Regions from separate parts of the Homo sapiens genome. Here region 2 is linked to region 1. The links come from fine-mapping of genetic effects on gene expression. A gene starts in region 1. The other region holds a variant in brackets. All regions are shown on one strand. Distances are between the middles of the regions.

Region 1 (2,500 bases):
GGTGGCTCAGGGCCCAGAACTGGTCATCTTCTGCCTTGTCTCTCCCCTTCACATCACCCTAAACCCAAAGGCCTCTTAAACTAAGAGGAAAGTCCCTTCAAATTCACAGAACACCACTTCCTCTCATTTGTCTAATACATTCGCATCCAAAACAGATCTCTGTAAAGAATTATTCAGTTGCAATTAATTACATTACAATTTTTCTGATAAAGAAACTGGGTCTCAGGCCAGGAGTGGTGGCTCACACCTGTAATCCCAGCACTTTGAGAGGCCATGGTGGATGGATCAGTTGAGTCCAGGAGTTCAAGACCAGCCTGGGCAACATAGCAAAACCCTGTCTCTACAAAAAATACAGAAAATTAACCCTGGCTTGGTAGTGCACTACAGACTACCCCTATAGTCCCAGCTACTCAGGTGGCTGACATGGGAGGATCATTTGATCCCAGGAGGTGGAGATTACAATGAACCAAGATCTGGGTGACAGAGTGATGAGATCCTGTCCCCAAAAAATAAATAAATAAAAAAGAAAAGAAAAAGAATGAAAGAAAGAGAAGGAAGGAAGGAAGAAAGAAAGAGAAACAAGAAACTAGGTCTCAGAATTTGGTTCCCATGTTGGTATTCACACTTAACATCCATAGGGACCATTCATAGCCTACTACTGTCCTCCTGCCTAATGCCCACACCCTCATACTTCCTCTAGCCCTCCCAGCCCCTGAGAGCACCACTCCTGGGAGAGGAAGAGATATTTACTATTCCCTCCTAAATATCATTCTAGAAGAGTGCTGCTGAACAGAACTTTGTGCACTGACGGGAATGTTCTACATCTGCTCTGTCCAATACAGCAGTCCCTATCTTCGTGTGGCTATTGAGCATTTGAAATATGGTGCCTACTAATGAGGAACTGAATTTTAAGTTTTATTTAATTAATTTAGATTTAAATTTAAATATCAACATGCCACTAGTGGCTACCGTATTGGACAATGCAGTTCTGCAATCTTCAAAGCTCAAAAACCCTGAGGGTCTAGTCAATCACTCCTCACTCCCAGCTCCTTTCCCCCCAGCACCTCCACCTCCCCTGAGCCAGGGCACTGGGGGCCACAAGACCTTCAGGGTTTTGAGGGACCTCCTCTGAGTTGCCACCACGGAGGTGTCCATCCTCACTGAACCTGCGGGTGCCGGATGTCCTCTCTCCCTTCCTCTTGCCCTCGGCCGCCAGGGGCCGCTGCGTCTCGGCTGTGCCCATCCGTTCAGCCGAGCGCCTGGCACTGTCCCGAAGGAGGCGGCGGCGCCCACGCGGGGCTGGAGGAGCGGGGGTAGCCCGGGGCGAGGCGGCGGTTGCGGCGGCGGCTGCGCGCTCCCCGGCCTGCCGGCAGGAACCTTGGAAAAAACCCGGCTGAGTTCTGCAGAGCTGGCGGGGCCGGGCCCAGAGCTCCCCTGTGCCCAGAGCCCGGCCCGCCCTGCGGATGATGCCAACCTGACCAGAACCCCGCTGTCCCGGGGGCGCAGCAACTTGGTGAAGGGGACAGGGCTCCGGACTAGACAGCACCCAAGCTGGCCGCTCCCTCCCAAAGTCTGTCTTTCGGAGTGCTGGTCCCTGGCTCAGTGGCAAGGAAGACTTCAGGCCAGCAGATCGAACCAGTGGGCATCACCGTGGACCAGGTAGGTCCCAGGTGTGGGGGCTCAGAATGTGGAGGAATGAGTAGGCGTTAGGGGGGTTTGTGGGGAGAGAAGGTGAAGAAAGGTTGAAGATTCTTGTGGTTCACATCCTCAAACCCTTGTAATGCAGGCTGCTAACTCAGCCTCACTAAACCCCTGGATTGGGATTTAGGAAAAATAGGCTAGGAAATTGAGGCAGGAGCATGGAAGTCGAAAAACACATCCCAGAAGCTTCTATGTCCAGCTGTTTCAGGGAGGGAGGGAATAGAATGCCAGGGATGAGAGCCCAAATGAACACCCCCACCCCTCTGCTCCCCACCCCACCAAGGTCTTTTGGGCCTTGGGGTTCCTAGGAGAGATGCCTGAGTTGGATTGGAGGATGTTGCAGCTCAGAGGGAAATAGGATCACCTGAGAGAAGACAAAGCTGCATTTGTGATGGTCAAAAGGAGGGTTCCTGGAGGGCAGGGAGAAGAGATCTCTACTCAGGAAAGAGGCACATCTAGAAGAGTGGGAAGCTCAGCCCAGGGAGCACACCCATCCCCTGGGAACTGGCACCTCTTCTCTGTGTTCCTCCAGATTCCCCTTATGCTCTCGCTCCTAGGAGCTAGGACTCAGGGGTCTCTGTCCTTCCGGGGCCCCACCATCCTATATGTTTCAGTTCTGCCTCCCTTTAGAGAGGTGAGGGAAGAGAGGTTCTTAGGGAGAAATGGAAAGCTATTGGAGGCTGTGGCCTTCAAAGGCTCAGGGACCTGGAGTGTCCCCATTCCAGCCCTCTGGTGTGGGAATGGGGGCAAGGGATGCTAAGCCAAGCCAGCTCCATGTGAGTCCAGGAAGCAGGTGCCA
Region 2 (3,020 bases), 73 kb after region 1:
CCATCCTGAACCCCTAGATGTGCCCCATTAGGAGCTCTAGGGAAGCCCAGCAACTACTGCTGTTAGTGCTGCTACTGCAGAGCCAGAAGTTAAGGCACCAAAAATGGAAGTGTCTTATATTGGATTGAATTCCTCTGAAACAGATCCTGAGACAAGGATGTAAGTGCAAAGCATTTTTTGGGAGGTAATCTCAGGAAACACCCATCAGGAGTGGTAAAGTGAGATAGGGAAGGAAAGGAAGTTAATGAAGGGATGTTACCAAGCCAGTTACCACTGTAGGCAACTGGAGCCCTATCCTACTGGGGAACGTCAGGAGATGATATGGGACATGCTGTCATGAGGCAACTCAGGACAAGGAAGCCAGGTGCTTATGCCCCACCCTTTTACCACTTGCCATTTTGCCTCTGGGGCCTTCCACTCTCTGGCACTTCTAGTTTGCCAGGCATGTAGATGTTCTAAGTGGGCAGCCTTGGATGGGCAGAGGTGAATGCCAAGGGCATGTGGATGGGACCTAGGCAAAGCTCACTGAGGTCTCATCAGCATTCTAGCCTGGCTTGGTGTCAACTGAGCTTCATCCTCATCTTCTGTAAAAGGAAGGGAATGATCCATCTCTCCAGCTAGGTGGTGTGAAGTTAGTGGAGATAAAGGTATGGTGGAGCGGGATGATTGACAATTAGAACTAATGCCAACTCCCCATCTCCTGGCACATTAGAGAGAGATTTAGAAGTCAAACACCAAAGAGAATGCCAGTCAGGTTGACTCCAAGGGGAAATGGCTTTAGATTTAGATCTTGATGAAATTTCTGAGTTGGCTGATGATAGAAGCAGGAGCTCCCCAGCCTGCACACAACTACTGGTCAATTCACACCCAACCCACACCAAACCTCAAGGAAGAAAAATCGCTTTCTTCTCAGCTCCAAACTTTGGTTCAATTATTATTCCCCAGTGGACAGGAACTGCCAGGGAAGAAGGACAAAGCTGCTATGGTAATGAAGGACTGTTTACTGATCAGCAGGAAGGAAGGGCAGCCAGAATGAGGTCAGGAACAGATGAATCTGCCCCATTGGGTGGATGGCATGTGTGATTTATAAGCTCTCTCCCTTGAAGATCCAAAAGTTTCTGAGTGGGGAGGGGAATGAAGAATGAAGGAAAGGACTAAGATAGAGACAGAAGTCTGTTTATTCTTCCCTTTCCGCATTATCAGTCAAGGCAGTAAATTCAGCAAATCTACTCGACACTAATCTTGTTAGACTAATTGACTATAATTCAGTTCACTGTGGGGATAATCAGATTTGTGTAAACTTTCACAATAGTCTCCAAAGGCTTCATATATCTTGACGGATATAGTCTTTAAAATGCCCGTGCCCTGGTCTTAGAATGGGAGAGGAGACACCGCAGGCTGGTGGGAAGGAGCGGCTTCAGAACCCAAAGAGATGCACAGAGCCACCCCTTATCTTAGCCCCGCTTTTAGGCCTTCACTCCACCCCCTCCTGGTGAGCTGGCTCCAAAGCTGATGGATGGGACTGAGACTGGCCTGGGTTGGCAGATAGG[C/G]ATATCTTACGAATGACAGGGTAGTCACCCTGCACCCTTCCAAATCTAATTGTCCGATAATTGCTGATCCAATCAGGAGTGTGTCTGGCATATAATCATCAACAATAAAGGCAATTCTTGTGATTATTAGTCAAGATAATGCATATAAACTTGTTAAAAGGTAAACTTGGGCACACTGAAATTTTAAAGAGTTTATTTGAGTGGACAGCAACTCATGAATCACGCAGGGCCAAATCACAAGCAGTTTGGGTTCCACCAATGGGTGCAAGGAAAAACCTTTTATAAGGTGTTTGGGAAACACAAAGAAAATATTTGCTTGGTTGAAGTGTAAAGTCCCTGCTTGGTCGTTAGCTGGCGGTTTCATATTGGTGAAATCTTTAAAATGAGCATAGTTGGCAGTTTCTGATTGGTTTAGCTTAACTTTCACTTTATGGTTTACGTTGACTTTGATTTTAGTTTGTTTATGTAGGAACTGAAGGTGCTGAAGCCATCTCAGCCTAATGGCCTCTGTGGACAAAAGCAGTCAAACTCTGTAAAATATTTGACAAGGTTTATTCTGAGCCAAATATGAGTGACCAATGGCTCATGACCCAGCCCTCAGGAGATCCTGAGAACATGCACCCAAGGTGGATGGGCTACAACTTGGCTTTATACATTTTAGGGAGACAGAAAACACCAATCAATACATGTTAGATGTACATTGCTTCAGTCTGGAAAGATGGGACAATTGAAGTGCTCTCAGGTAGATTCAAAGATTCTCTGATTGGCAATTGGTTGAAAGAGTTAAGTTATTGTCTAAAGACTTAGAATCACTAGAAAGGAATGTCTGGGCTAAGATAAGGGCTTGTGGAGATGAAGGTTTTATCATGCAGAGAAGGCTGGGCGCAGTGACTCACGCCTGTAATCCCAGCACTTTGGAAGGCCAAGGCGGGCGGATCATGAGGTCAGGAGTTCAAGACCAGCCTGACCAACATGGTGAAACCCCGTCTCTACTAAAAATACAAAAACTAGCTGGGCATGGGGACGTGTGCCTGTAATCCCAGCTACTCAGGAGGCTGAGGCAGGATAATCGCTTAAACCCAGGAGGCAGAGGTTGCAGTGAGCTGAGATCACGCCATTGCACTCCAGCCTGGGTGACAGAGTGAGACTCCATCTCAAAAAAGCAAACAGGCCGGGCGCCGTGGCTCACGCCTGTAATCCCAGCACTTTGGGAGGCCGAGGCGGGCAGATGAGGAGGTCAGGAGATTGAGACCATCCTGGCTAACACAGTGAAACCCTGTCTGTACTAAAAAAAAATACAAAAAATCAGCTGGGCATGGTGGTGGGCGCCTGTAATTCCAGCTACTCAGGAGACTGAGGCAGGAGAATCACTTGAACCCGGGAGGCAGAGGTTGCAGTGAGCTGAGATCGTGCCACTGCACTCCAGCATGGGTGACAAGAGTGAGACTCCGTCTCAAAAAAAAAAAGATA

Which allele goes with the higher level. Positions count from the first base shown, and alleles are read on the strand shown. Sizes are in standard deviations (SD) of each study's normalised expression.
In carriers of allele C in region 2, the expression in visceral fat of the gene that starts at base 1,265 in region 1 tends to be higher than with G alone (moderate effect, 0.61 SD a copy in GTEx).

The links. PIP is the estimated chance that this variant, and not a neighbour inherited with it, causes the effect.
Region 2: its variant is the best candidate, but not a certain one, in a credible set for the expression of TAFA3 in visceral fat (GTEx, PIP 0.50).

Annotation. Positions count from the first base shown.
Region 1 is chr1:112,717,641-112,720,140 of GRCh38, forward strand. It overlaps TAFA3 (TAFA chemokine like family member 3), which reads left to right and starts at 1,265. Exons shown (of 6, transcript NM_182759.3): 1 at 1,265-1,659. PPM1J-DT (PPM1J divergent transcript) reads left to right here. Exons shown (of 2, transcript XR_947714.4): 2 at 1-156. RefSeq lists a silencer at 1,325-1,374.
Region 2 is chr1:112,789,943-112,792,962 of GRCh38, forward strand. No RefSeq gene overlaps it. Among named protein-coding and RNA genes, the nearest start is that of NUTF2P4, 43 kb to the left of the region's middle. RefSeq lists enhancers at 1,496-2,070, 2,071-2,643. The variant C/G (reference allele first, on the strand shown) is at 1,551.